Regions from separate parts of the Homo sapiens genome. Here region 1 is linked to region 2. Evidence: fine-mapped expression QTL. A gene starts in region 2. The other region holds a variant in brackets. All regions are shown on one strand. Distances are from middle to middle. Region 1 has its middle 47 kb from the start of MIR1287. Region 2 holds the start of LOXL4 (lysyl oxidase like 4).

The links.
Region 1: its variant is fine-mapped to the expression of LOXL4 in fibroblasts (GTEx, PIP above 0.99).

Annotation. Positions count from the first base shown.
Region 1 is chr10:98,340,794-98,355,673 of GRCh38, reverse strand. No RefSeq gene overlaps it. Among named protein-coding and RNA genes, the nearest start is that of MIR1287, 47 kb to the left of the region's middle. RefSeq lists an enhancer at 1,256-1,760. The variant A/G (reference allele first, on the strand shown) is at 5,839.
Region 2 is chr10:98,259,916-98,274,795 of GRCh38, reverse strand. It overlaps LOXL4 (lysyl oxidase like 4), which reads left to right and starts at 6,602. Exons shown (of 15, transcript NM_032211.7): 1 at 6,602-6,664; 2 at 11,745-12,053; 3 at 12,583-12,761; 4 at 13,669-13,874. The coding sequence starts at 11,777. It overlaps LOC124902489 (a long non-coding RNA gene), which reads right to left and starts at 6,354. Exons shown (of 2, transcript XR_007062260.1): 1 at 3,608-6,354; 2 at 1-516. RefSeq lists enhancers at 6,655-7,154, 7,155-7,656, 12,423-13,312.

The DNA.
Region 1 (14,880 bases), 81 kb before region 2:
CTGTGGCCTGGGCTGACCTATCCAGGCTCTCCCCAACTCCCTATCATAGGCTCTGTCACACCTGCTCCTCCATGCCTCTACTCATGAGGTTCCCTCGGTCTGAAGATGCTTTCCTAAGGCCCATGCCAAATCTCACTTTCCTTCCAGCCAGCCACACACCCACTGCCCTGACCCCAACCCAGGAATAAATTCTTCCAGCCCTCTTGCCCTCTAGCCCCCATGTATCCCACCCTATAGTGAAAGCCAGAGATCGCAGTTTGCTTCTGTTACATCATGATCTCCCTGTGGGGCCAATTCACCATTTTCTTTACTGTGCTGAGCCCAGAGCTTTGTACACACCCAATTAATGTGGGTTAAAATGAATTCAATGGGAAATTTAAAGCCTCAGGGTCTGAGGAGAGCTAATGGGATCTCACAGCTCAAATACCAATATTACTGATATGTCAGAGCAGGAGAACAAAATGCTGAGCTCACCATAGCTAGGTCTTTGGTCATATTTGTCAGATGAGGAGTCTGTGCCCTGGAAGTTGTGGAGGTGGAAGTGGAATCTCTGGTTGGTGACTGACACAGCCTCACATGTGGGGACTCTATCCTTGACCTCACCTAAAAGGCAGAAGCTGCCAAAGGTGGGGGGACATTTGACTCCTGCATTTGGTGTTTTTTATTCTCTCTCTTGACAGCACTGGAGAATGTTTGGGGTGGGGTTAGGCGATGCTCTTGGGCAAATCACACTGAAGACAGGTGCTGCCCATATCCCCTCACCGCACTCCACCCATGACCTCTCCTTTCCTCACCCCTTCTGTACTTCTGGGCTGGAAACATTCCCTAATTAAGTCTCATTCACCCCTCAGTGTCAATTAGTGCGGTCTGCTAGCCCGAGGCAAGATGAAAGACTTTGGACATCCAGGAGGCAGCTCAGGCTTCTGGGCTGCAAAAACAGGGAAAAGAATTCAGAAAGGGAAGCCCAACCAGAACAGATGGGCCAAGGTGAAGTCCAGGACAAATGGAGTGGCTGGAACCAGGAAAGAAGCCACCAGGAGCCAGAGGAGAGTGCATAGGGCTTGTCAGGAACAGACAGAGTCGGTGCAAGGCCTGAAGGTGAGTCCCAGGGTCTGCAAAGCTCTCCCTGCACCCCAGCACTCACCAGGGCTCTTGCCTGGCACTTGGCCTTTCTTTTAAATGGTGTGGCCTTTCCTATTTTTTAAAAGGCATCCTTGGGCTTGACAAGATGAGAGAGGAATAAAGGGATAAAGCTCAGACATGCTTTCTTTGAGCTTGCATCGACATCTAAATGATGATGGTAGGGACAGCCTGGACAACCGCAAACAAAGATTCTATCTGCTCATCCAGGCACCTTGGCTTCCCTCACTGCAAGGGAAAGGAAAATGTTTCTTGAGGGCAGTACTAGGGTGTAACTCTGGCCACTTCACCTGCTCTCTAAGGTGGTCTTTATCATCCTCTGCAGGAGGTCGTGTCATTTCCATTGTATAGTTGAAACAGACTCAGCAAGTACACTCAGAGCAGATAAGTACCTTGTCCAAGGACACGTGGTCAGCCACTGTCACTTTTCACTTGTTGCTGATTCTTTTAAGGCAATGAGGCTCTAGTCTTCTTCAGATGATATACTTGTGCCTTGAGTCATTCCGTCAGCTCCCTCCACTAACAGTAATGCCGTTCAAACACCAGCCCTGGTGTCCAATTAAAGTCCTTGCAGATATAAGATGGTATGGACAGGGGAACTGGATTTCCCAGCTGTAAGGGATGCAGACAGGGAAGCTGACCCCAGCAGGTGAGTGTAGGGTCATACCTACCACTGCCAGCGTGGCCAGCCTTTGCTCTGTCTCCAGGTCTCTCCCTCTATGAATGATGAGTCAATTGCTAGTGGAAAATTCTTCAATGAACTTAACCATTCTGGAAGCAGTAGTCCCCTTCCAGGGCTTCTGTGTCCCTGGGCAATGTTTCTGCTTTAAAATCCCCATTTCCCCTTCCAGCAGTAGCATCTTACAGGGACCCCCAAATTGTGTACCAGTCTTAGTCACACCCACGTTTGCTGACAGATCTGGAAATTGCTCTTATTAACCCTCATTATCTCAATAGTGATTTGGTTGTGACTTGCCGTGTTTTGTTCTTCAGAGCTCCTGTGCCATCCGCTCCCTCCTTCCTATGGCTTGATGAAGGAAGGACTTGCAAAGAGAGCTGGTCTTATTCCCTCCTCCTCCCTTTCTTGTTTGCAGAACTATAGTTCCCTTATTCATTCTTTCATTTCTGCTTTAATCACAGGTTCCTGCATCCGTACTTTCATACTTTCCATTTCCTCCTCTTTGTGCTTGGAAGACTTCCTGGGGATCTCCTCCGTTTCCTGAACCTGTTCTGTCCAGAGCTCACGTCTATGCGTATTTTCACAATGACTTCCTTTGTTGATTTTAATTCCTATACAGCAATTCCAGCCAGCTGGGTAAAGGGATGATTGTAGATGACCCACCTCCCTCGCCTCCTTACCCCTTCCCTCTCCCAGGAAAATGCTCCCAGACACCAAAACTTCTGCCTCTTCACATATCACAACAGCAACATTCAGTAGCATTCCAGAGGTGTGGTTCAATGTTCAAGGCCTGTTCACTGTTCCAAGTGAACCTCCCAGCCACCCCAGAAAGAGATTTTATTCTTGCCATCCCTATTTCACAGCAAGGGAAACAAATTCAGAGACAGACTCCTGAGGTTTCCCACTGGTGAGAGGCATTGGAAGGAGCATGCAGCAGGTGCCTGCAGTTCAGAAGCGCCCACTCCTTTCATTTCATTGATCTTTACCAGCAAAAGCCTGAGATATGCAAGACACACTCTTCCACAAAGACCCAGTTGTAGACATGTGTGGATCTTCCAAACTGAATTCCCCAAAAGCATTGTCCATGCACACCCCCACCATCATGTCTGGAAGTGTGTCTGTTTCTCCACATGCTCACCAAAATTGGAAGGGTAGGATTTGGGCTGCCTGTTTGTTATTCCTGCGAAGGAAAGATGGTATCTGCTCTTCTTATTCCTAGGATCCTGGGCTTCAGGTCTTCTCTTCTTTATGGAAGACAAACGAGGAAAGAAAGGAGTTAGAGCCTCTCCATATGCTCATCTGCAACCAAAGTTCCCATCTCGGATCAGAGGTCCTCTGGCAGCTGGTGTAAGTGACGCTCCCCCAATACTCCAACCTGATCAAAATCCTGAGGCGTCTTCTCCGCAGACTGCAACAGCACCTGCATTTTACAATCTGCCACAGATAGGATCTACTTTTCCTTTATGAACATTTTAAAATACTACCTATCAGGTTCACACGGAGGTCTCTTCCATGGTCTAACTCAGACACGAACATCCTTGGTAACCGGGTCCTGCCATTCACCTCCCCTCTTCTTCCTGGGCTCAGACATTTCCCTTGATTGCCTCTACCCCCTGGAATCTCTCCCTGGTTCTTATCACTGAGCCTCTGGAACTTGTCAAAGTTTAAAACCCTCCATACTTGTTGCTTTCCTTCTTGGTTTGGACAGACACAGAATGTTTTCTCATCCTTGCTGGAACAGAATTCCGTAGCTCGAGCCATCACATCTTTCAAGACAGGACTTTCGCCTGAGCTCATGCTCACAAGCTTGGCACATCCCCACAGTCCACACCCTATGGCCACCAGCAAAACCCATTATCCTCGGCTTCCCTCCAGGGCCAGGCATGTGGGACTGTGGAGAGCCCTGCTCACGTAGCGAGGTCGCCCTTCAGCACGAGATTCCCCCTGCATAGCCTGCATGTGTCTTACTGGGGGTGGGGCAGGGGTGGTGGAGCTGCCTGGGGTCTTGCTGGGGTGGGGCAGGGGTGGTGGAGCTGCCTGGGGTCTTGCTGGGGTGGGGCAGGGGTGGTGGAGCTGCCTGGGGTCTTGCTGGGGTGGGGCAGGGGTGGTGGAGCTGCCTGGGGCAGTGATACACCAGTGAGTTACCAGGGGACTGTAGCTCTGAGGCAGTCTCCAGCAGAGCCAGGGTGAAGGCTGATGCTGTGAGTCTGAGAGATAGTAATGAACCTGGAGACCAGGGCAGCCGTGAAAGTGCAGCAGGGTCTGCAGCCAGCGCTCGGCAGTCACACAGCAGAGCAGGGAAGGAAATGAAGTCTCCAAACAGTACTAATCCCACCACAGCTATTCCCACCCCATCTCCTTTTTTACCTTCCTGGTCTTTTTTTTTTTCTTTTCTTTTCTTTTTAATCTTGAAATAATGATAGGAAGTTGCCCAGTGGTTACGGGAATAACTATCACACAAAATCTGAACCAGGAATTTGACACCAGGTCAGTGTGTGTGTAGCTCTATGCCATTTCCTCACATGTGTACATTTGTGTAATCATCACTGCACTCAAGATACAGAACTATCTCATCACTACCAGGAGTATAGCTATTCCTTTTATTGGACCCTAAAGGTATTCCAGCTACCATGCTAAGCATGATTTTGTTTCTTCCTAAAACACCCTAGAAAATAGGGTCTCCAATTATCTTCATTTCACACATCAGAAGACTGAGGCTCAAGGTGGTCATGTTTCTCACCCACATTCTCATGGGTAATAAGAGCAGAGGACTCAAGCTGGTGTCTTGGTGTCTCCATTACACAGCCAAGCATCATGTACTGTCTCTGCACGTGGGTCAGGAGGATGCTTTTAGTCTAGATCTGTCGGGTATCAAGCTGGACTGGACACCTTGAGAAGAATATCATCCTCACATCTGTCTTGTCTGATTTCATCAACAAACGGGTTCATGTTGACAAACCTTTAGAGTGGAAAGTGGTTTGTGGCAGACAATGGAACAACAGCATCATTAAGGAGCATCGACCCTAAACAAGAGAATGAATTTGTAAGGAACAAGATCAAGCAAGAAGCACGTTTTCTCCAGGATAGCAAAAAAGGGCAGGATTAATCAGAGTTGTGAGTCAGGGGCTGAAACAGCAGATGGGTGAGCGTAAGAGCCATATAGCATGAGAGTTGGAAGGGAACCAAAGCACTCAGCAGGTGTGCTCTGGAAGGGGCTCCCTTCCCGCCTCCCAGGTTCAAGCGATTCTCCTGCCTCAGCCTCCCAAATAAGCTGGGATTACAGACGCCTGCCACACCTGGCTAATTTTTGTATTTTTAGTAGAGACGGGGTTTCACCATGTTGACCAGGATGGTCTCAGTCTCTTTACCTTGTGATCCTCCCACCTCGGCCTCCCAAAGTGCTAGGATTACAGGCGTGAGCCACCGTGCCCAGCTGCAACATATTTTTTGAAAGTCAAATGCAAGTCTGTTTGGCCTGGTGCAGTGGCTCACACTTGTAATCCCAGCACTTTGGGAGGGCGAGGTGGGTGGGTCATTTGAGGTCAGAAGTTTGAGACCAGCCTGGCCAACATGGTGAAACCCGGCCTCTACTAAAAATACAAAAATTACCTGGGCATGGTGACAGGTGCCTGTAGTCCCAGCTACTCAGGAGGCTGAGGCAGGAGAATCGCTTGAACCCAGGAGACAGAGGATTCAGTGAACTGAGATCACACCACTGCACTCCAGCCTGGGTGACAGAGTGAGACTCTGTCTCAAAAAAAATAAAAAATAGAAAAAGTCAAATGCAAGTCTGTTTGAGACTCTAGCAAGGACTGTGGTCAGGATCTCTGGTGCAGTCAGTGTAGCTGCTGGCAGAAAATCACTAATTTTGAAATGTCTCAAAGCGGTTTCCACTTGAGGAGCAAGATAACTGCTGTTTAGTGAGATGGGCTTTTGGAAATGGCTTGATGTGGCCATTCACGCAGCCATAACTTACGCATAACTTCTCTCTTTTTTTATGGCTGCAACATTTTATGGTT[A/G]CATGTTAATCACATTTTCTACTTCCTCCTCCCCTAAGCTCAGCCCAGGCAGTGATGTTTAAGAGCCTCCTCTCGGCACGAAGTGAGGATGCCTGAGATCTTAGTTGACGGCAGCTTGCAGACTTGGAAGCGTTCCCTTCAGTTATCCTAGAGAATGTGGGCTTGTCTGAGGTCAGGATGCAGGAAGTGTCTGTGTTGGCCCGACCTGCTGGGTCCCCAGGGAGCCATATTTCAACAGCAAGAAAAATGCATAGTTCTTGCTTTTAGTTTCAAATCCAGATGTGCACACTCTGAGGAGGCAGCGTGCTGAGAAGTGTTCGAGGTGAACATTCAGGGCAGCTGCTCTTCAGAAGCAAGGCTTGTAATGTGGTCCCCAAGTACCCTCTCCTGCTGTTGGTCTGGAATCGACATTGCCGGTCCAGATGTTTTGAGATAAGCTGTAAATCTCTCCCTGCCTCTGATTTGATCTAATGAGAGGGCGTGACTCGTGGTACTAGTGGGCGGGATGACTCCTCAGTGGGGTACCTCCAGCCATCCTTCCGGGGTGGCCTCAGGGTGTGAGTTATGGCCCCAGCGGATTCATCATTACTTGAAAGTTTTGCACATGGAATTGTTACCTACGTCTGCAGATACCAGGAGGGCAGGAAAACTTAAATGTTCCAACAGACTGGTTGATTCTTTTAGCTGTGATCCCAAAATTCCGTGGAGAAAAGCACAAGAAGCTCTGGGATGTGAATCCTGGAGACACGGGAGAGGCTGGTATTGCTGAGAGACGAACACTCTTATGCCAACCCAAAAGGTAACTGATAAGCAAATGGGGACTTCAAGGCCACTGTCCAGAGGAGGCAGCCTCGAAGGGGGCAGGCTGCTGTTGTTTTATCAGGTGATCACACCGAGAAATTGTTACTGGGGTTCCTTGCTCACAGAGCTCCCAAGATGGTGGTGAGCCGCTTCCAAGATGGTGGCAAGCCTCGTGTTCTCTGACCTGGGGGTCTTGGCCTCACGGATTCCAAGGAATGGAATCTTGGGCCATGCGGTGAGTGTTATAGCTCTATTGGAAGCTGTGGGTCATGGAAGAGAACTGTAGAACCCAGTGACTAGTGTTCAGCTCGATTAGGATGAACCCAGGCCCTTAGCCATGCAGGAAAAATGGCAAGCCTTTAGCACGATCGGGAGTGGCAATGGGTGCCTCGCTGGATCAGGAGCACAGCGGACACCCTGCGGGATCTGGAGGGATTGAAGTGAGCAGCGGGTCTGTGACTGTGGCAAACAGCAGTGGTGGACTGTGAGCGAAAGCTCAGCTCAAGCCATAACAAACACAGAAGAGTGCAGTTGCAAGATTTAATAGAGTGAAATAGAGTGAAAACAGAGCTCCCATACAAAGGGAGGGGACCCAAAGGGGGTTGCCATTGCTGGCTCGAATACCTGGGTTTATATCCTGATCATTGTCCCTCCTGCTGTGCTCCCAGGCAACAGATGATTGGCTATTTCTTTACCTCCTGTTTTTGCCTAATTAGCATTTTAGTGAGCTCCCCTTACTATCTGATTGGTCAGGTGTGAGCTAAGTTGCAAGCCCCATGTTTAAAGGTGGAAGTGGTCACCTTCCCAGCTAGGCTTAGGGATTCTTAGTCGGCCTAGGAAATCCAGCTAGTCCTGTCTCTCAAAATGTTCTAGTTTCAAGATGCAGGTATCTTCCTTTAAATCTAACTTTTTCTAAGTGTTTTACTGTGCCCCAGATACCCACATGCAGATTTTTCACTTGATCCTCATAATAGCCTTTTGCAATAGGTGTTATGATCCACATTTTACCAATGACCACAATGAGGCTCAGAGAGAAAAATAACTTGCCCAAGGCCCCTCAGCTTGTAAGTGGCAGAATGAGCATCCAAATCATGCTTCCTCCTTGAAATTTTTTTTACCAAGGGAGTGTCTTAGTCAGCTCAGGCTGTTATAACAAAATACCACAGACCAAGCAGCTTAAATGGCAGAAATTAATTTTCTCACAGTTCTGGGAGCTTGAAGTCCAAGATTTAGGTGTCGGTCCATTTGGTTTCTAGGGAGGGCTCTCTCCCTGTCTTGTGGACAGCCGCATTCTTGCCATGCCCTCACATGGCCTTTTCTCTGTGGCAGAGAGAGGAGAGAGACAACAGAAGCGCATCCTGGTGTCTCTTCTTGTAAGGACACTAATCCTATCAAGTCAGGCCTGCACCCTTGTGACCTTTTTTAACCTTAATTACTTCCTTAAGGGCCCTATCTCAAAGTACAGCCACACTGAGTTTAGGGCTTCAACATATTGTTGGAAACAGTGAGTTCCTCTTCAAAGGTTCAGCTTGTCCTCTATTTTCAAAGCCTAACTTCCTTGCCTCCTTGCCCCCAGTTATGGTAAACAACCTTCCAGCCATTCCCAATCTGTAACCCACGTCCATTCCCAATCTGTAACCCACACCCATTCCCAATCTGTAACCCACACCCATTCCCAATCTGTAACCCATATCCGTTCCCAGTCTGTAACCCACATCTGTTCCCAATCTGTAACAACCCACATCTGTTCCTTATTTGGCACCCTTAGTTCAGAAACTGCTCTTCCCTCCACTGTAGCCCCCACCCCTGCTCAATTTTGAAGTAGCCAGTCGGGATCAGCTTAGATGGTATGGTGCGACCCCAGCCAATGGAGACCGGACACAGTAGTAGGGACTGACTGCATTAGGGATAAAAACCCCTTCCCTCCTTTGTTCGGTGTGCTCTTGCAGTGACCAGAAGAACGAGCAGCACCCTTCTGCAGAAGTAAGTTTGCCTTGCTGAGATATCCTTTATTTGAGTGCTCATTTTCTTTGCAACTCTGAGCTCTTATTTCCAACAATGTGAATTTGGGGGTGTTGAGGGACACAAACATTCGGCCTGTAAAAGGGGGCTGCCAGTTCCTGTTCCACATGGTATGTGGAGGTCCTGAACAAAGAACCTCCAGGGTCAGTTCAGCATGGAGTAAACAGTGGTCTTCCTTACACCAAGAGAGAATGCCTGGCTGAAGACGGGGCGATGGGAGCCGAGGCCATGTGTACCAGTGAGAGGTATAGTCTGGCTGGAGAAGGAGGATGCAAGTCATGAGTTGTTCTGAGATGGGTGAGGGTGGTGTCTGATGTTCCTTATCAAGGGGTGTGAGTTGAGGATGAAAAGAATTCTCAAGGAAGGGAAATGGCAGAGATCCCAGATCATTCCTCTTTTCCCTTCCCTCTTCCCTTTCCTCCCCCTTTCCCTTTAATTAATTAATTAGTTAATTCATTAACTTATTTTGGACTTTGCCTCTGGAACCCTGCAGATTAGAATAAATTGTGGCCATGGAGGCCCTATTATATCTCATTTAATAACATAGTTCCTCAGTTTACCTACAACATTAGTGCCACAAATTCATCCAGCCTCTTCTTGAATTTCTCCTCTGTCTAGAAACTCACCACCTCCTGAGCCAGCCCATTCTATTCTCAAGTGTCTTTAACCAAAACAAACGCCATCTCTCTGTAGGTCCTGGTTCTACTTTCTGGGGCAATAAAAATGGAGTCAGCTTTTTAGAAGACAGAACAAATCTTGTCCTACTCAATATTCACAGATCTCTTTTTGTTTGTTTGTTTTGAGGTGGAGTCTCACTCTGTCACCCAGGCTGGAATGCACTAGTGCAATCTTGGCTCACTACAACCTCTGCCTCCTGGGTTCAAGCAGTTTTCCTGCCTCAGCCTCCTGAGTGGCTGGGTTACAGGTGCACAGCTAATTTTTGTATTTTTAGTAGAGATGGGGTTTCACCATGTTGATCAGGCTGATCTCAAACTCCTGACCTCGTGATCCACCCGCCTCAGCCTCCCAAAGTGTTGGGATTACAGGTGTGAGCCACTGCACCTGGCAATATCCACAGATCTCTTATCTGATCTTCACACTTGGTGTTTCCTTCCATATTTTGATCTCCAAGAGGACCTGGTTACTTTCTAAGATATATTTCATTTTACACCAGCAGCAAATTCTCATTAAAAAAGCTTGCAGGCTGGGCGCAGTGGCTCACGCCTGTAATCCCAGCACTTTGGGAGGCCGAGGCAGGTGGATCACGAGGTCAAGAGATTGAGACCATCCTGGCCAACAAGGTGAAACCCCATCTCTACTAAAAATACAAAAATTAGCTGGGCATGGAGGCTGAGGTAGGAGAATCACTTGAATCCGGGAGGCAGAGATTGCAGTGAGCCAAGATTGCACCACTGCACTCCAGCCTGGGTGACAAGAGTGAAACTCTGTCTTAAAGAAAGAAGAAAGAAAGAAAAGAAAAAGAAAAAGCTTGCATTCCCCAGAATTAAGCTCATTTTAACTGTTCCCTACATTGCTTCCTTCTGAGCCATAAGGCCACCATTCATCCCCTCAAAAACCACTTAATGACATTTTCTTTGTTCCAGTACCCCTCAAGGCACAAGGAACATAGCTCTGAGCAAGATGGACAGAGTTCCTGATTTCAGAGGGTTTACAGTCTAATGGGGGAGGCAGGGAAGACGGGCAAACAAAGAAGAAAGTCAGGTAGGAAATGCCATGAAATAATAATGTTTTCTTTCACAATCAGACTACAGTTCTAATGCCTAGTGAGCACTTATTTTCAGCAAGGCACTTTGCTAATTATGAAACGAATAGTCTTGTATGCAAGTATAGCTTTCTAAAAAAAAAAAGTTCATAGGGCTCTGATCCTAGCAAGAACCTTGTAAAGTAAACAGGATAAGCATTATTCTGATTATTAAGCCCACTTTGCAAATGAGGAAACTGAGACTTATTTTAGTAGCAATGCAGCCAGTGAGGGTGCAGGAACTCATAGCCTCTGACACCAGCTGCTCTCTACAGCGCCTCACTGCCACTCATTGACGAGTTTGCTGATGACTTACCCTCATTTCCCAAGCCAGCTCTGGTTTAGTCATTAGTAGTATTATCTGCCGGTTTTTTGGCAAATGTATGCATTCACACATTTATGTGATGACTTTGGTGGTTTGGAAAACAGATCTTGCATCTCAGCCTTTGTAGGGAGGACGTTGATGCAGGGAGCCAGGAAGAGGCTGGCCAGCATCCAGAGGCCCTACTCTGGATAGGGGGTAGATTTCCACATCAGGAAGTGCAGAGTGAGACATCTGGCGAAGTCAAGTGGCCACTCAGTCAATAGCCAGGATTTGGGGTCAGGTCATAGCAACAGCTGAAGGAAACAACCATGCTGGGTCAGCGGGTCCTGGGGCTTTGGGACAAGCAAAATGTGAAATCTCCCAACCACAGAGGAGGAGGAGGAGGCAGTGTTTGGAAGTCAGCTAAATGAGGGGCAAAAAATGTTTCTGCCTCCATCACTCAGCACCTCCCCTGGCTGCTGTGCCCTTGAAGGACTGACTCTCAGGCCTTCCTTCTACTTGCTCAAGAAGGGACGATCCCAAAATGAATGCACCCGTCTTTCTTCGGATTTCTCATTATTAGTCTTTTCTTGAATAACCTACATAGGACATGTTTTATTCATCTCCTAATTGGTTCCTTAGTCACTCTGCTGTGGAACCTTTTCATGACATACCTGCATTGGACATACATCAATCCCTCGTGTTTGCAGGGACTGTTCAGTTACCTAGACCAGGGCCAAATAGGGGAGCCCCGGGATTTGACACTGAGATGGTTCGGGGCTCTGCCAAAGACACCAGGTAAGACAGAGGCATAGTGGGAAGCAGGCTCTCTACAAGGAACCAAATAGACTCGAAGCAGACTTTAACTTTGCAAGGGAAGGTAAGATGAAGCGGCATGACAGAGGGGAGCAGAGGCTTTTCATCTTCTTCCCTCCCACCTTCACCAGCTGGATCTGGACCCTGCAGAAGGTCATCTTTTCCAAGTAGCCTGGTCCCAGTAGCAGATTCAAGGCTCTGAGCTGTGGTAATTATTATTATTATTAGGGCCTGGGGCCAACTGAATGAGCATTCCCACCATGCACTCAATAGTTAGACCATATTGGTCTATAGTGAGCAGCATGAGTTGTCCTTAAAATGACATGTGGGGTGGAAGTAAAATGAAAACCAGGGAGTCAAAAGCAAAGTAAAAATGTAAACTAGGGATCCAAGCCAGCGAAGCTGTGATTGGTGGGGATGGCCTTTGATGTGTTCTTTTCTTTCCTTTTCTTTTTTTTTTTTTTTTTTTTTGAGATGGAGTCTTGCTCTGTCACCCAGGCTGGAGTACAGTGGTATGATCTCAGCTTACTGTATCCTCTGCCTCCCCATGTTCAAACAATTCTCCTACCTCAGCCTCCCAAGTAGCTGGGATTACAGGCATGCACCACCATGCCTGGCTACTTTTTATATTTTAAGTAGAGACAGGGTTTCACCATGTTGGCCAGGCTGGTCTCGAACTCCTGACTTTGGGTGATCCTCCCACCTCAGCCTCCCAAAGTGCTGGGATTATAGGTGTGAGCCACCACGCCCAGCCTGATGTGCTCTTTAATTAGCCCTGGATGACTTTCATTAGCCCTCTGAGCCTATTTCCTTGTCTGTGACATGACAGGGATGAACCAAGTGAACCCCAAGGTCCCATCAAGCTTGAAGACCCCAGGTTCCTGGGAATAAACCTTCAAGAGGAATGAGAAAGCAGAGGAAGACTTACAAAAAATTATTTAAGGATAGGAGATGTTTCCAAATGTTGCAAATTTGCCTTCTATTTGCATTTACATTTCCCAGTTTACAGTGTTTTCACAAATACTAGTTCCCTTGTTAAATCCCCACAGTGACTATGAGCCCCCTGGTCTTATAGAGATGGAGCTGATGTGGTTCTATGGAGTTAAGAGAGTTGTCCAAAGTGGCATCTAGCATGAACGAGGATGCAAACCCAGGATGACTGGCTTGGCCGCCCTTGGCCACCACCTTGACCTTGAACCCATCATATCATCCCTCTTTTCTCTCTACTCCGTCACCCGCTCCTCATCTCATGGGCTCTCAGCCTCTTACCTTGACTCCTGCCTGCAGCATATATTCATCCCTGTCTGTGAGGGACTGGAATTGTTCTCCTTTTACCCTCTATGGTCTCCCTTCTCCCACCACAATCTGTGCTCAGCTTTAGGTCGCCTTTGGTTGTTGACCCAGGTAATATTCAGCTCAGACCCTGAGACTTGGCCTGGTGCTGGCCGATATGACCAGTATCCATAAGAAAGGATTTCAACAATCGCCACACAGAAGAATTATGCACACAAAACAAGAGGGTCTTTCTGCCACATCTCTGAACAGGAAAATCAATTCAACAAATATTTATTGGCACTTACTCTGTGCAAGGCATAGTCTGTATATTAAAAAGAGAAATGGTATGGCCTTGAGGTGGTGGAGAAAATAAAAACATGGTTCAACCGATTTGTAAATGTCTGAGAGACTACAGGGAACAAGGTAGACTCCATAAAGTGCTTGTCCAATCAAACTAATATCTCTATTTATTCCACAATAAGAATAATGACAGCTGGAAAGATATGTCATCCCTTTGGACAGGTGTATGACTTCTCTTCCAGAAGCCAAACAATGAGCTGCATCCAGAGGCGTCACTGCGCCCGAGGGAGTGAGTGGAGGGACCAGAATGCAGGCGGGGGAGGCAGGCACGGGCAGGCACCCATGGGACTTGACTTACAAGTGAAGTGGCTTCCATAGTTGAAGCTGCAGGGGGAAGGTTAGCTGGGAATGCTTGTGCTGATGGTTCCTCCCTGGCAGGAAGGAGGTTCCTGGAGTCTCCTCCTTCCAACTCTAGTATCCAATTTGACTCCATATAGATCTTGTGTGTTCTTTTTTCTTGTAGAAGAACTGCTGTGCATACCTTCAGGGCACAGGAAACTACAAGATTAAGTTATGACTTGCAGGACTGTATTTGTCTGATGGAAATTGCAGGTGGCTGGCCAGGCGCGGTGGCTCACGCCTGTAATCCCAGTATCTTGGGAGGCCAAGGCGGGCATATCACGAGGTCAAGAGATGGAGACCATCTTGGCCAACATGGTGAAACCTCGTCTCTACTAAAAAATACAAAAATTAGTCGGGCGTGGTGGCGGGCACCTGTAATCCCAGCTTATTCAGGAGGCTGAGGCGAGAGAATCCCTTGAACTTGGGAGGCAGAGGTTACAGTGAGCCAAGATTATGCCACTGCATTCCAGCCTGGTGACAGAGTGAGACTCTGTCTCAAAAAAAAAAAAAAGAAAAAAAAGAAAAGAAATTGCAGGTGGCTACATGTTCTCACTTAAAAAAAAGAAATTGCAGATGGCTGCATGTTCTCACTTATAAGTGGGCTAAGGAATGTGTACACATGGACCTAGTAGAAAGACACTGGGGACTCAGAAGGGTGGGATGGTGGGAGGGGAATGAAGGATGAGAAATTACCTAATAGGTACAGTGTACACTATTCAGGTAATGGTTACACTACAAGCCCAGACTCCACCACCACTCAATATATCAACATCACGAAACTACACTTGTAGTCCCCGAATCTATAAAAATAACAATTAAAAAAAAAAGAAACTAGAGGTAGAAATGAAAGAAAGCTGTCAGGCTAAAAAAAGTATCTGCCAGGGCATCCCATGGAGTCACAGAACTGCAGGGACCCCAAGGGCAAGTGACCACTTTGCAGCAAAGGGCACCAGCCTCAGCTGGGACATCTGCCCTGGCCCTGGCACACTGCCTGTGCTGGCTCACCAGCCCACCTTCAGGCAGCTCTGCTTATCAGCACACTCTTTCTTAATACTCACTTTCATCACTTCCACTCGGTGATGGCAGCTTCTGCTCCTTAAGGCCATAATGAACAAGCATAATTCATAGACTTTTTAGTGTTGGGGACTCAAATGCAAGATTAAGAACTCCTAGAGTGCAGGGACCAAATTAAACGTTTGAGATTCTTTTAAAATTATGAAAGAAATACAAGCTGCTGGTATAAAATTCAAACCGCACAGAAGCAGGCATAGTAAAAACATTCTAGTCTCCCTTCGCCCCTGCCCCAGAGACACTCACTATTAACAGCTTCCAGACTTTTTATTATGCATTTATATTAATG
Region 2 (14,880 bases):
CTCCAAGTCAGGTCAAGGGAATTCCCCACCAGGACAGCTCTTGTCTATCCCTTCGCGGTTCCTGGAAGCTAAAGATGAGCTGGTTACATGAAAATTAACCTTTGGAATCTGTCAGTCCCAGTCTTGAATGATCATACATTCTGGCTGGTAGATAAAACCAATTCCTAACAAAGAGTCTTTGAAATGTTTACAAAGCTCTACATCAACAAACCAAAATGCAAGATAATACAAGACCGGGTCAGGCATAGTGGCTCACACCTGTAATCCCAGCACTTTGGGAGGTCGAGGAGGGCAGATCACTTGATATCAGGAGTTCAAGACCAGCCTGGCCAACATGGTGAAAACCCATCTCTACTAATAATACAAAAATTAGCCGGACACAGTGGCATAGACCTGTAATCCCAGCTACCCAAGGAGGCTGCAGCAGGAGAATCGCTTGAACCTGGGAGGGGAAGTTTGCAGTAAGCCAAGATCACACCACCGCACTCCAGCCTGGGTGACAGAGCAAGACTTCATCTAAAAAAAAAAAAAAAAAAAAAAGAAAAAGAAAAAGAAAAGAAAAACTAAGATGATACAAGACTGAAGATATCTGTGTTAAGTTCACGTGTACCTCTCTTTAATCAATACCTCTGTTCCTGAAATTATTTCCCATGGAATATCAATTAATTCCAGACATAATTCACAAATAGTGGATTTAGGGTTGGGAGTGGCTCCTAACACTTAAGCATTCAGTTTGGCTATGCCCTCAAATAGTCAGTGATCTTCCCAAAGGGGCCAAGAAGAAGCAAAACCCTGGGCTAGGAAGAACATTGTTCTCCTGCGAAGAGAACATTGTAGCCTGGGAAGTTCCCAGGCTAGCCCACTAAGGCCTGTTGACCTCATCCACCATGGGAGATGCAACACAGTTACTACACCAGTGGCTTTAAAGGACCCAGGAAAACAGCATAGAATAAGAAATGTCTTTTAATTTAACTTGTCTGGTGTTGCTTAAGGAAAAAGGGGTTCAATTACTGGCAAGTGAGAAGGTTGGTGCAGACTTGCATGAGCTCCCGAAGGGACCTCCGGGGCTGTGTGGCTGTGGCACTGAGTCTTCATTCCGCCTCATTTCCCCCCAGAACTTATGACTTTAATTTACCTGAATAGAAGCACATCCAGGCGCTGCGCCTGTGTCCAGCTGCTGAGACAGGGAAAGCGGGGTTCTGCAGGTGGCACTGGGGGTGCAGGGGGAAGAGGGAAATTGGCAGGGGGAGATATATTCTTAAGAGAACTGGAGAGTGGTTGGAGGTGAGTTTAGAAAGGGTGTGTGGCCAGGACGGAGAGGGGAGAAGGTGGGGAAGGCAGCAGGGCAGGAAGAGGTCCTGAGAGGAGAGAGGAAGAGGAGGAGGAGGAGGGGGAGAGGAAAGCCAGGACACTGAGCTTCCCCAGGCAAGGAGGAGTTACATATGAGAAATGGGGTGACATCATGTGTCTTCCTGAGGGGCAGGAAGAGACTCTGGGGAAGAAATGTGTGTTGAGCGATTGATCTTACAAAGTCCAAACTTCTCTGGGAATTCAGGGCATTTGTGCTGGCATTCCTGGAGGTGGAAGTGGGGAATCTGAGTCCTATTCTCTGCCTTTCAGTAGCTTAGAGCTTATTAAACTCCTTCCTGTCCCCTCACCCCAACACCCTTATCAGTTCCTGTCCCCCCCACCTCCTACAAAAAGTTATGACTGTGAAGCGTTAAACCAGCTCAGGACAGTACCTGGCAAGATTAAGATTCCTGTAGCCCAACTCTAACCAAATCCCACTCCTACCCCAACCCTTTCGGAAAGCTGCAGCGGCCCCTCCTACCTGCCAAGCTAAGGCCCTTGCTCAGGTGGCTCGCAGCTCTCTAAAGGTAACCTGGCTGGGCTGCTCCCCCTTCAACCCTCTCCCTGCCAGCATCTTCGACCTGAGCCCAGACCAAATGCCTCTGCCTTCCTCTCCCGCCTCGCCCACTCGCCGCACTGGGGGCATCCTCTCCTCTCTTTCAGCCATGGAGCATTGTGTGTGACCCTAAGGAGGCTCAGTGACTGAGTAGCCCCCTCACTCTCCCCCAGGGCCCACCTCTGAGCCACATTCCCACCTTCACGTCACATCCTCTCCCCGCCCCATACACACATACACACAATCCCACTTCCATGCTGCCCTTAGACCTGGGCAAGGGTCCCTGCTCTGGTCCTCCTGCTACAGAGGGCATCACCGTGGCCCTTGTCAATTACACTCCCTCCACGCCCCACCCCCCGTCACAGGGCAAGGAGGAACTTCCACTCGATTTTCAAACCCATGCTCTTGGAATTCTTTGCCCAGGAGGCCAGAGCCCACTTCTAGACCTTCCTCTTGAGTGCAGCCTGTGCCTGTGCCAGAGTGTGCACCCAGGCATGGGGCAGCCACAGGACAGCTGTCTGTGGGAGGTCTGCACAGAGCCGACGGTGTTGCATGTCTGTCACAGCAGAAGGCCCCTTGCTGTGTGGGATGGGCAGAATATGGTGCGGACGGACACACCAGGGTGCAAGGCCAGAGGCAGACACTCTTGTCATAGCGTGTTCCATACAGAACTCCGAGGAGTGGAAAGTTGTGAATGCAAACCTGACCTTCCAGGTCTTTCCAAAGGTATATTTGTCAAGGTGGGAGGCTAGACCATGATTGACTTAACAATGGATTCATTTGGTTGATGGCTTTAAAATACTTGACTCATGGCATAAGGCCTCCCTTGAGTCTTGCCCTGGGCCCTGCAAATGCTGGGGTGGGCCTGTCCAGCTCCAAACTTGATTGACTTATGCGGGGTTTCTGAAGCTTTCACAGAACAGGGGAGAGGGTGACTTTGCCTATCACAAACCCAAACTTCCTAGAATTTCTTTTTAACCAGCTCTGCTCTTCCGCCAAATTTCCTCTCCTTACTGCAACCAGCTCATCTCTCCTTTCTCCCTAGAAACCGTATCCTTGACTAGCCCCTCCAGGCTTCCTAGATCCACCCTCCCCACTTCCCCAACTTCATGATCTTACAAAACCCTCTCAGCTCCCATCCTCTCCCTGAACAAAAGCCCTGTTTCTGGATAAACAGCTCTCAACAAAGGAGGAGCCTGTCCTTGGCCAAAATGGCTTGTTCTCCCCATTTGTCCTACTTTCTGTTATTACAATCTACGTTCCATCAAGCTATGTCTTTGAGTCATCTCTCTCACTAGACAGTGAGCTCCTTGAGGGCAAACACTGTGTCTGGTTTGGCTCTGTGACTCTTCCAGCACCTTCTACTTTGAGAGCATTCATGCAAGTTTTCATGGGAGATATCACGGAGGAGTTGGAATCGGAGTTAGGCCTGAAGGGTAGGTAGAATATGGAAAATGAAGTGAGTAGAGGCAACTGGAGATTCCTTCTCTCCTGTGGGCAGTAGTGAGCAATTAAAGATTCTTGAGCTAGAGCAAGACAACACTTTAGAAAGACTGACGTCAGGAACAGTGAGATGCAGGGAAAAACTGAGAGCAGTTTGGGGGCTGTTGCCACAGCACTGAGTGTTAGAGGAGGCAGGAATGCAACGGCAGGACAAATAGATGCAGGAGGCAGTACCTTAGGCACAGCAAAATAACTTACCCGAGGCCACACAATTCAGAAGCAGAGCTAGAACTCAGGTTGCCCAGTTTTAAAGCTGTACAGTTTCCTCCATACTGAGTCACAGAGGAGATGAGGCTAGAACTGAGTCCTGAAGGCTGCTGAGGAGGAAGTTTGCCAGCAGGCATGGGCACTGGGCACTCCACCAGGGTCACTACTGGGTTCAACCAGGTGCACCCTGGAGGCCACCGCTTTCTGCAGGAGATTCTGGCCTTCCCACTTGGGAGGAAAGTACAGACCCTGACTTAGGCAGGAAGGGAGGGTTGAGAAGCACCCCATGGGGAAGAGATTCATGTTAGCTCCTTTCCCTGGGAGGAGGCAGGGAGAGGTGATGCTTACACATCCAAGTCCCTGGGTACTGGCTGAGGGATCAGGGGAGCTGCGGTAACTCCAGACACCTGCATGGTGCTTCACGGCTTCCACAACATCGTAAAGTGTTATTCCTGACCACTCCACTTTCCCCCCTCTCTACCCAGTGTATCAGATCCACCTTCCAAGGCACTTCTGGGAAGGCTTCAACCCTCAGACTTCCCTGCCCAGCATCCACACAGCCCTGTGCTTTCGCCGTCATTGATCACTTGCTCCCATCTGCAGATAACAGCTGTGTGATGTTGGCCAAGTCACTTAACCCCTTTGTGTCCCAGTTTCATTGTGTAAACAGGAGATGATGAAAGCATTGTCCACCGGTTTTTCGACCCCAGCCAGCCATGATGATGATAATGGTGATGATGCCTTGTCCTGCTGGTTGATTGTGGCTCTGTCTCCCCCACCACTCTGCAAATTCCTTGAGGACAAGATAGGAAGCACCTCTGGCTTGTCTGTATCACCTTGGGGACCAGAAACTGGCACGCACCGCTAGGTCCATTTATTCAATCCGTGAGCACTTCTGGAGCACTTGCTATGTGTCAAGCTCTGTGACAGGATCTGGGTTTAGAGATAAATAAGAAGCTCGGGGGTGGGTGGGGGTGTCCAGAGTTAAGGCAGACACAGACCATTATATAAAGAGTATGGAGAGGGTCACAGGCGCTGGGCTGAGGCCGGGTGAACATAGCCAGGCAGGAGGGAAGAAGAGGGCTTTCTCAATCAAATGAAAGCTGATTGAGATGAATCCAGTGGTCCCATCTGACCCCTACAGCAATCACATTTAAGGATGAGGAGATGACAACTCAGCCGAGAAAATCCCACTGTTAGTACGCCATGGGCTGGGGCTGGGACCAGAGCCCCTCACTTCTCAGGGTTGGGGGCTCACAGCGCATGCCTTAGAGATCCCCACTTCCACTGCTTCCCAGCCTTGGCCTCTGCCCAGAGTTGTGCAAATTAAAGGACTTCCGGGCAACATCCATTCATTCCCTGGTCTCTATCCTCCGCCCGCCCCTGCGCTCCAGGGTATTTTTAGTTCTGGGCAGCCAGGCCTGGTGAGTGATTGGCAGCAGGCAGAGCCCACGTTTCCGAACCCTCTGTGTTGCTTCTGGCTCAGCATGAGAGGTGGCTGGGCCCTAGGAGAGGGCTTAGGCATACCTGGCACCCAAGCCCACAGCTGCCTCATTGTCCCTGGGGGAGGAGCTGGGCTGCTGCCACTGACCCGAGGCTGGGAGCATTCTTTCCTGCTGATTCATCATGGGGAATGTTTTGGGCCCAGCTGGGGTGGGGCAGGGGCACTGGGGGGACATCTTGGACACGGGCAGCCAGGAGTGGATGGCAGGTCCCTGGCAGCAGGGTCATTAAGACCTGGCTGTCACCCAGGATCGAAAAGGTCCATCTTGACATCCTAGCTCTATCACACTCTGCCTGTCCAGGCTTATTCTTACTTGCACATCTGCCTCCCCCACCAGACTGGGAAGGCCCCCTCCAGCGTCTAGCACTCCAGCACCCTGTCTAGCATGTAGGAGAAAATCAATAAAGGCTTGTGGGATGAATGAACCTTTGGAAGGACGTTTAGGCAAGGTGGGGGCAAGAGGGGGAACCAGGTTGGGCAGCTGTGGGCCTAGGGAGGAAACCGGGAGGCTGGAACCCTCTGCCCATTTTACAGATGGGGCCAGTGAGGCTAAGGGCAGGACCAGGTCTAGGGGAAAGAAACTGGGGGCTTGGACTGGGGTTCAGGCACCTAGGTGCTCAGTTCAGCTGATGGGACTCCTCTCTGTCAGCCATGTCCACATTTCTTTAATTCTACAGTCCCTGCTCCCTGCACTAACACCCTCCTCCCGTGAGTCTGACAAGGGCCAGGACTGCATCATTCAGCTCTGTGAAGGGGTTCTCCCATTCACTGTGTATTGCCTGGAGGAGCAAGTTATGTCGCCTGGGGCTCAGTGTTCCCAGCTGCACAATGGGCAGCGCAGAGTTTCACACGGAGGGCGGGGGGGGGGGGGGGGGCGGTATTCAGTAAACTCTGGGTGACTCGCCTGTTCCTGCAGGAGAGCACCGCTGCACCGCGCCACCTCGACCTCTCTGAACTGAGCCCCGGCCTCCCAGAAAGGGCGTCTACATTGTCCTAAGTGACCGAGCTCGTGAGATTCGGCCCCTGTGACAGCCGGGCGCTCCCGTGCGAAGGGTGCTGTGCCGGGGGCCCTGGCACCCACCAGGACTCACAGACTGGGACTCTAGGTGGGCGTCATTACCTTGTTCTGCAAAAGAGGAAACTGCCTGGGAGAGGGACTCCCGAGGCCGCCGCGGCCCTCCCTGCAAAACAGCCGCGGGCCCAGCGCCGCCCTTTCCCGAGAGCTCCGCTCCCCGCGACCCCCCGCCGCCCCCCCGCTCCCCCCGCCCCCCGGGACTTCCCGGCCCCGCCGGCTGCGGCTGGGCGCCCCCGCCACCTGGCCTGTGTCCCGACGGGGGGCGCCGCGCGGAAGGCCGGGCGGGGCGCCCGCGGACTCCAGGCCCGCCCGGGGCGGGGCCTGCGGGGCCTCCTCCGCGGCCAGCTCGGGGCTGGGGGGCCGCGGGCGGGAGGCGGATAAAAAGGCCCCAGGGCGCCCGGGGAGGGAGCCCGTTAGCGCTGCTCCGCCGCGGCGCCCGCCCAGCCCCGGACTGTCCGCGCTCCATCTGGTGAGCCCCCGCCTGGCCGCGCGTCTGCCTCTTGGTCTGCCTCTTGCTGTCCCATCTGTCCTTCTGTCTCTCTGTGAGTCTGCAGGCCTCTGAGGGTTCCTGGAGACTGGGCCTAGGGTGCATGGGGGATCCCTTGGACCCTCAGCCCGGCCCTCCAGTCGCTCACCAACCTGCTTCCAACTGGACAAGTGACCACGCTGGGGAGCTTGGCCCAAGGCCCGCCCTGAGTGGTGCGCCCAGGCCTCAGGGGTGCCTGCGTGTCTTGTTTGTGTACACGCCGTGTGTAACCATTGCTCTGCCTTCTTCCAGGGAGGAGACAGGGAAGGGGCAAGGCGGGTTCAGATGTCACACTTACGACTTGGGGGACAACGAACCAGGGCTGATCTGGGCTCTCCAACTATCCAGACCGGAGCTGATTATGTTGGGGGGTCGGCGTGTGACAGAAACACCGAAGGGAAGGGGGCAGAAGACTTCAAGCCCCCTCTTTCCTAGCCTGGACAGGTACAGCTCAGAGACCATTTGTTGGCACTGCTTCAGGTCCACAGAGTCAGTAACCCCGGGGAGGCTACAGGGCTGAGAGGAGGCTGCTGAGAAGAGCTGCCCAACGGCAGAGAAGGGATGAGCCATCCTAAAGTTGCTGCACCCTCAGGACAGCACCCCCCATGCTCTCTCTTGAATACTCGGGCATTTGCTGTCTTCAGCCCTCCCTACCTGCGCTAGGTCAGGCCAGGTCCCAGCATCTCCTGGCACACCTGGAGCAGGTGCCTCTGTGCCTCAAGCTGGCAAGATCTTGGATCTGTCACTCGGCATTCAGCGAAGAGCACCCTGCCCAGTGCCCTCACACCACGGCCTGGGTCATAAATCCACCAGAACAGGGTGGAATTTCAGTCGGCTCCCGGCCTTCCTTTCCTCCTCCCCCTCTTCCAACATCCATTCTTGGTGGTTTTGAGAGTCCGGCGTCTAGCCAGGCTGCTTGGGTTTGAATCCTGGCTGGGCAAGTTACTTGACTTCCCTGGACCTTACCTTCTCATCTGTAAAATGGAGATAAGTATTTAATCCGTATTTTAAAATGTATAGTTATTATCCTCACTTCCCTCCCCTCCTCTTTCCCTTCCACCTTCCTTCCCTCTTCTGTCCCCTTCTCCTTTATTTGGGAAAGTAACGGCCACTTTCGAGGCCGCTTCCTTCTCTGAGGGAGGATGCACAGCTTGGTCCTCTGTGCTCAGTGCTAGGGGAACAGACAGGTGGAGTCTGGTTGTGGGGTCAGGAAGCAAACACACAATGTGCTTTGTGGAAGGCTTTGTGGGAGGGCTTAATGGAGGGGGTGGCATTTGAGCTGGCCTTGTGGGATGTGTAGGAGTTTAACAGTCTTAGATAGAGGGAAAGGAACAGTGAGAGCAAAGGCTTGGAGGCTGGGAGACGAAGGCTATAGTCTGGTGTGAGCAAAAGCTCTCGGGGGCCTATAGTGGGCAGGAAGGCCAATAAGAGGGACTCTCCCTGCATCTAACTCTTGGTTCCCGCTGCCGTCCCCCCACCTTCCAGCAGCGTTCATGGAAGGGAGCTTCCCTGGCCCAGACCCCAGGGTCCTACAGCAGAAGCCCTCCCATGCCCTCAGGTTGGTCCCTTGGAGAGGAAGGAGCTGCTGGCCTGGGACTGTCCACAGCCTGTAACAAGACCTCCTCAGTGTGTCAGGGACTTCAGCCAGGAGCCAAACAGCAGACCTGCCCAGCCTACCCTGGGCCCCATCAGAGCATGTCGGATAGGGGGGCTGTCTAGTGCCACCCCCTCATTTTACAGGTTTTTCAGCTGAGACTCAGAGAAAGGAAAATATTTGACTCCAGACACAATTTGGCGGCAGAGATAGAAGCATTCCAACTCCTGGGGGTGGTAGAGAAGGTGTGGTTGTCACTCAGCCCAGACCCATGTGACCACTGGGTCCTAATAGCTGAGGGACCTGAGGCCGATCTGTCCCATCCTTTCTTGCCATCTGGGGAGTGGTTTGGCTCAGTCCCTGGCTGTCTACCTCCTACTCCAGGGAGCACGGAGGAGGGAATGGGAAACAATGGAGAGCACTCTGCTCATGGGACAGCCAGCTGGGAGCCCCCACAAGCCTCTGAGTGACATGCAGAAGACAGTGTTTCAGTCTGGAAAGGAAGCGTGGGAGGGGTCAGAGGGGGAGAGCTGCAGAGGTGAGAATGGGAAGGCAGCCCCTGCACAGCCTCAGGGAGTGGAGAGGGGAGCATCTAGGCTCTGCAGTGTGGGTGGAGGGAAAAGGGGCAAATCTAGAGAAGGCTGCAAAGAGGAGTACCAAGGACTTGCAGTTGAGATCGGACGTGGCCTCCATTTCCTTCTTTGTACAGAGAGGAGGTGGGACCAATCTAGACCAACGGTTCTATCGTCGCTGTCACAGTAGCTGTTAATAATAGTTCATTGTTGGCCGATGTAGTGGCTCACGCTGGTAATCCCGTCACTTTGGGAGGCCAAGGCGGGTGGATCACCTGAGGTCAGGAGTTCAAGAACTGATGTGGTGAAACCCTGTCTCTACTAAAAATACAGATAAATTAGCTGGGCATGTTGGCGCATGCCTGTAATCCCAGCTACTTGGGAGGCTAAGGCAAGATAATCACTTGAACCCTGGAGGCGGAGGTTGCAGTGAGTCGAGTTTGTGCCATTGCACTCCAGCCTGGGTGACAAGAGCAAAAATCTGTCTCAAAAATAATAATAATAATAATAATAATAATAATAATAATAATAATAATAGTTCATTGTTACTGAAGGCTTGCTCTTCTAAGGATTTAATGTTTCTTCACTTAATCTTTACAAAAATCCTATGAGGTAGTTACTATTATTATCCCCACTTTACAGAGGGAGACACTGAGGCAGGGAGAAACTAAATCGCTGGCCCAAGATCACTTCCAAATGAACTGGTGGAGGCAGGATTCGAACCCCAGCAGTCTGACCGCCCAGCCTGTGCTCTCAAGCACTGTGCTGCCACCTCCCATCCATGCAACCACAGATATGAATGAGTGCCACCTACACACCTGACACTATTTTGGGAACTGGGGACACAACACATCCCCACTCCCATGGAGCTTCATTCCCAGAACTTGTTTAGTGCACTTTTAGGAGCCCACTCCACCCAGCCCTGCTGGCCAAGGCCGTTGAGAGGGAGTAGGGCAGATGCCATCCATGGAAGTGAGAGTGGCAGGGGCCTGTGAGAGCCTCCCCACTCAAGCGGATGAGCTGCATGATTCCCCAAGAGGAGCCATGGCCGTGGAAGAGGCAGGTCTCATCAGAACGAGCTTTCTTAGCCCATCTTCTCCATCCCCTGTTCCAGGTCGGCCTTAGCTTCCATCGGCAGCAGAGCCTTGGGGTGGAGGAGCTTCAGCTTCGGTGGCTCCAGAGGTCTCTGACAGCTCTAACCAGCTGAGACTCTCTCCTCTATGCCCTTCTCCACCTGCTGGTCCCGGGACCAAGGCTGCTGTGTGAGGGGGAGAGGACCTGCCCCCAGCCTCATCCCCTCTCTAAGGACCCAAAGAACGTCTGATTACAGCCTCCTGGAGACAGGGGCCCTCTCTGTTTACCGCCTGAAACCCTCCCCTGGCCCCTCGCTTCCTACAGGATGAAGGCAAACCCTCTGTGTAGTACACATGGCCCTTGATCATTGGCCCCAGCTCGTCCCTCCATCTCTTTCCCCTCCAAACCCCCACACTGTGGTCTGGGGGTAAGAGAAGGGCACTTCCTGCTCTTGCACAAACTCACCTCTTTCCCTCTTTCCTAATCCTCTTCTCTGTATCTCGAATGCCCCTTTTCTCACCCAGGAGAATCTTATTTGCCCAATAAGGCTCAGGTTAAGTGTCCCTTCTTTGAAAGGCTTCCCTAATTCTTCTTGCTTGAGCTTCATGAAGGTAGGGAGGGTGTTCGATGTCTTAATTTCTGTGTCCCAGCACCTGGCCTGAAGCAAGTATTCCAAAAATGTGTATTGAATCTACATGAATCATACGCCTAGATGGATGTGAGGCTATCACAGGGTATCCAAGCTGCAGGAGGGATCCAGATGATATGTGGTTCCATCTCCTCACTTTAGAAATAAAGAGTCAGGGCCGGGCACAGTGGCTCACACCTGTAATCCCAGCACTTTGGGAGGCCAAGGCGGATGGATCACGAGGTCAGGAGTTCAAGACCAGTGTGGCCAAGATGGTGAAACCCCGTCTCTACTACAGATACAAAAAAATTAGCTGGGCGTGGTGGTGGGCGCCTGTAATCCCAGCTACTCAGGAGGATGAGGCAGAGAATTGCTTAAACCTGGGAGGCGGAGGTTGCAGTGAGCTGAGATTGCAGCACTGCAGTCCAGCCTGGGCGACAGAGAGAGACTCTGTCTCGAAAAAAAAAAAAAAAAGAAAGAAAGAAAGAAAAAAGAAAGAAAGAGTCAGGACCTAGAGAGTTGAAGAGACTTGCCCAAGCCATGCAGCCAATGAGTGGTGGAGTCCTTGATGCCCATCTAATAGCCCTTTCTGCTCCAGCCTTCCATGTGCCTTCTAGGTGAAGGCGGCACTTCACACATTTGATTAGGGTGCTAGGAACATCAGAAGGTGGTGGCAGTGTCCCTGGGGTAGATAGTCTTGACCTGAGGGCACCCTGGGGGCATCCCCGTGACTCAAATGGTGGACCACCTCGTCTGCCTACACATAAGATTTTAGGTGTATAAGAGCTGCTGTTTATTGTGTACTCACCAATGCTAGGACTTTGCTAAGCACTTTCCATACGGTGTTTTATTTAACACTCAACAACACCGTGAGATGGAGATTACTATCCCCATTTTACAGATGAGGAGACTGAGACTCAGTGAGGTTAAGTTTAAACTTCCTCAAGGTCATGGCGAATGTGGTGGATTTGAACCAAATCAGCTAACCTGGCCCAGACTCAATTAATGCCACTGTGTGTGTGTGTGCGCGTGCACACACACACACATTTGAGGGGGGTTTTCTTTCCTTTGTCTTGCCAGGAGCTGCCAAATTGCTGCAGAGGTCTGAGATCTGGGTAGAGGTGGTGATCACTGTCATGTTTACTCATTCCTCAGGTATCTTGGCCTCAGCTGTCCTTGAAGTCACCATGGCGTGGTCCCCACCAGCCACCCTCTTTCTGTTCCTGCTGCTGCTAGGCCAGCCCCCTCCCAGCAGGCCACAGTCACTGGGCACCACTAAGCTCCGGCTGGTGGGCCCAGAGAGCAAGCCAGAGGAGGGCCGCCTGGAGGTGCTGCACCAGGGCCAGTGGGGCACCGTGTGTGATGACAACTTTGCTATCCAGGAGGCCACAGTGGCTTGCCGCCAGCTGGGCTTCGAAGCTGCCTTGACCTGGGCCCACAGTGCCAAGTACGGCCAAGGGGAGGGTGAGTGACTGGTGCCACCTAGTGGGATGGCAAGGAGATGGTAACAGTCTTCTTGGGCTGGGCTCACTGACACCCACCCATCCTTTAATACCCTGCTCATGTGACCTCCTCCACACGGCATTTCCTGAGTGCCTCAGCTGCACATGGCCCCTACTCCCACCCTCCCATTCTCTCTTGTAATAAGGCCACCGCCGTCACCACCACTAAACTCTAAGTTCCTTGAACATAGCAATTGGCACACAGTGGGTGCTTAGAGAATGTTGAATGAAAAAATGGGCAAACAGGTAGGTCTGATTCCTAGAGCTACCCGGCATTTTCCAAAAACAGATTCTCTAAGAGCCAGCACCCAAAGGAGGTAGCAGGCAGGGTTATAAATACTTATTCCCCAGGAGACCCAAACTTCCTCCTCCCTGCCACTTTCTCCCAGGGTTTGGAAGAGGTGACTTGGTAAGTGTGGGGTCCTATGCAGGAGGCAGAGCCTGTGACCTGCCTCTCTGTGCCATCTTTGAGCATCACCTCCACTCCACAGGACCCATCTGGCTGGACAATGTGCGCTGTGTGGGCACAGAGAGCTCCTTGGACCAGTGCGGGTCTAATGGCTGGGGAGTCAGTGACTGCAGTCACTCAGAAGACGTAGGGGTGATATGCCACCCCCGGCGCCATCGTGGCTACCTTTCTGAAACTGTCTCCAATGCCCTTGGGCCCCAGGTGAGGAGGCTGTTCAGGCTCTGGTCTGAGCCAAGGGCTGGGTCAGAGAACAGAGAGCCTCCCAGAAGACGGGCCTAGAGGATAAGCGAGGGGAAAGGGTGCAGTCTGCACTGAGCATCGTCCCCAGGCCGCCGACTCCTGAGTGTGCCCTGCAGCAGGTGCATAAATAGAGGGCCCCAGCCTGAGGCAAGGCAGGCCAGAGGACCAGAGCTGACCCCACTGGGAATCGCAGAAGCTGCTCCCGTAAGGGAGACAGCATTGGGTAAGGGGCTCCCTCATCCATGAGGCCTGGCCACAATTGCTGCCTCTTCCCAGCACAAACAACCCTGAGCTAAAAACAGCCCAAGCCAAACAACAGGAGCGGGCAGGGCAGGGCTCTGCTGCCAGGCAGCCTCCAGCCTCAGGACAGCTGGCCATGGCCACTGAATGCAGCGTGTTGTGATGGGGACTCTGTACTGGTCTAAGTCATCCCAGGGCTAGGGTTGGGGGTTCTTGTGGGCCATAGGATCCTGCTGTGGTCTCAAGCAGCTGGTCTATGCCCATCTCAGCTCTCTCAGGGTGGTACAGAGAAGGCCCTTCCATGCCCAGCAAAAGCCTCCCAAACTCCAAGGGCTCCCATCCTGATCCCAGCGGGGGCCAGATCTGCCTAGTTCTCTCCAATTTGACAAATTCGAGGAACTGAGGGAAAGGGCTTAGACAAGCTGAGGTTCTGCCTTGCACTTACTCTGTGGCCTTTGATAATGCCTCCCCTTCTCTGGGCCTCAGTTTCCTGGCCTGTTCAATGACCGGGCTGGGTGGGATGGTCTCGAAAAGCTCCAAGCCCCAGCCTTTCTGCATGAAGATCTGCAGCAGGCTCCACTGGAGGAGCAGGAGCCCCGAGGCCCACAGGTGACTGTGCACCCCGCAGGGCCGGCGGCTGGAGGAGGTGCGGCTCAAGCCCATCCTTGCCAGTGCCAAGCAGCATAGCCCAGTGACCGAGGGAGCCGTGGAGGTGAAGTATGAGGGCCACTGGCGGCAGGTGTGTGACCAGGGCTGGACCATGAACAACAGCAGGGTGGTGTGCGGGATGCTGGGCTTCCCCAGCGAGGTGCCTGTCGACAGCCACTACTACAGGTAGGAGGGCGGCTGGCGTAGGCCCCACAGGAGGCAGGGTTGTGGGGCAGGGACTGAGTGTGTGTTCATGTGCGTGCATGTGATGTAGGGTGTGTGCATGAGTCTGAGTGTGGACTCATGTGAGGGGCAAGTAAGTATGCACACAGGCGAGTGTGTGATGTGTGTGGCATGTGGGACCTCGCAGAGTTCAGTGAGTACTGACTGGCAGTGGTGTTGTCTGTGGCAGGACATCCAGCAGGTGTTGGGATTGGGGGAGAGAAAACAGGCCCTACTGAGGAATGTGCCCAGATTTCTTGCTTCACGGGTGCCTCAGAATAATAAACAGGAAAGTGAATAAGGAGGACCTTCAGGATCCTGGGAAATACCTAGAAACAGTCAGAAAACAAACACTGCACTCTCGAATTATGTAAACAGAATTAACTAGGTACAGAACGCCCCCCCACCCCCCGCCCCCGGTGAAAACAGTTGAACATAAAACCGCGTGTCCTTGGTTAAAACACTAGACTTTCCTGCAGATACTTGCAGTGACACCCACGTGTAGAGTTTAGACAAACTGTTCTGGCCTCAGCTCAGCCAGTGACTGGCGTTAGGGCTTTGGGGAGGGCCTCTGAGCCTCCATCCTCAATTCCACTGCGAATATCCCAACGCTTCCCTCCTGAATTTCCTCAGCTCTGATCAAGCCAGGCTGTGACTGGGTTGTGTGTAAGTGAGGCGTGGGGTGGGGCACCTGGAGAGAGGAGACATAAAAATATTCTGTCAGAAACAAGGCGGAACTGTCACAACTGATTGCATCAACCAGTAAACGACAGCCACAGTCATGGTTCTGCCAGATCCGTGTCAGGGAGGACTTGTGTGTTTCCCATCAAGTGAGAAGTCTCCCGTAGTACGTCTGAGTCATCTGCCACCCCAATCAGTTTGATCCTGCTTCCCTAAAGGGTTAGAAGGCCCTTGTTGCAGTGACTTAGAGGAACCCCGTTCTGAGGAAACAGGGGTGCTGGTCAGCCTC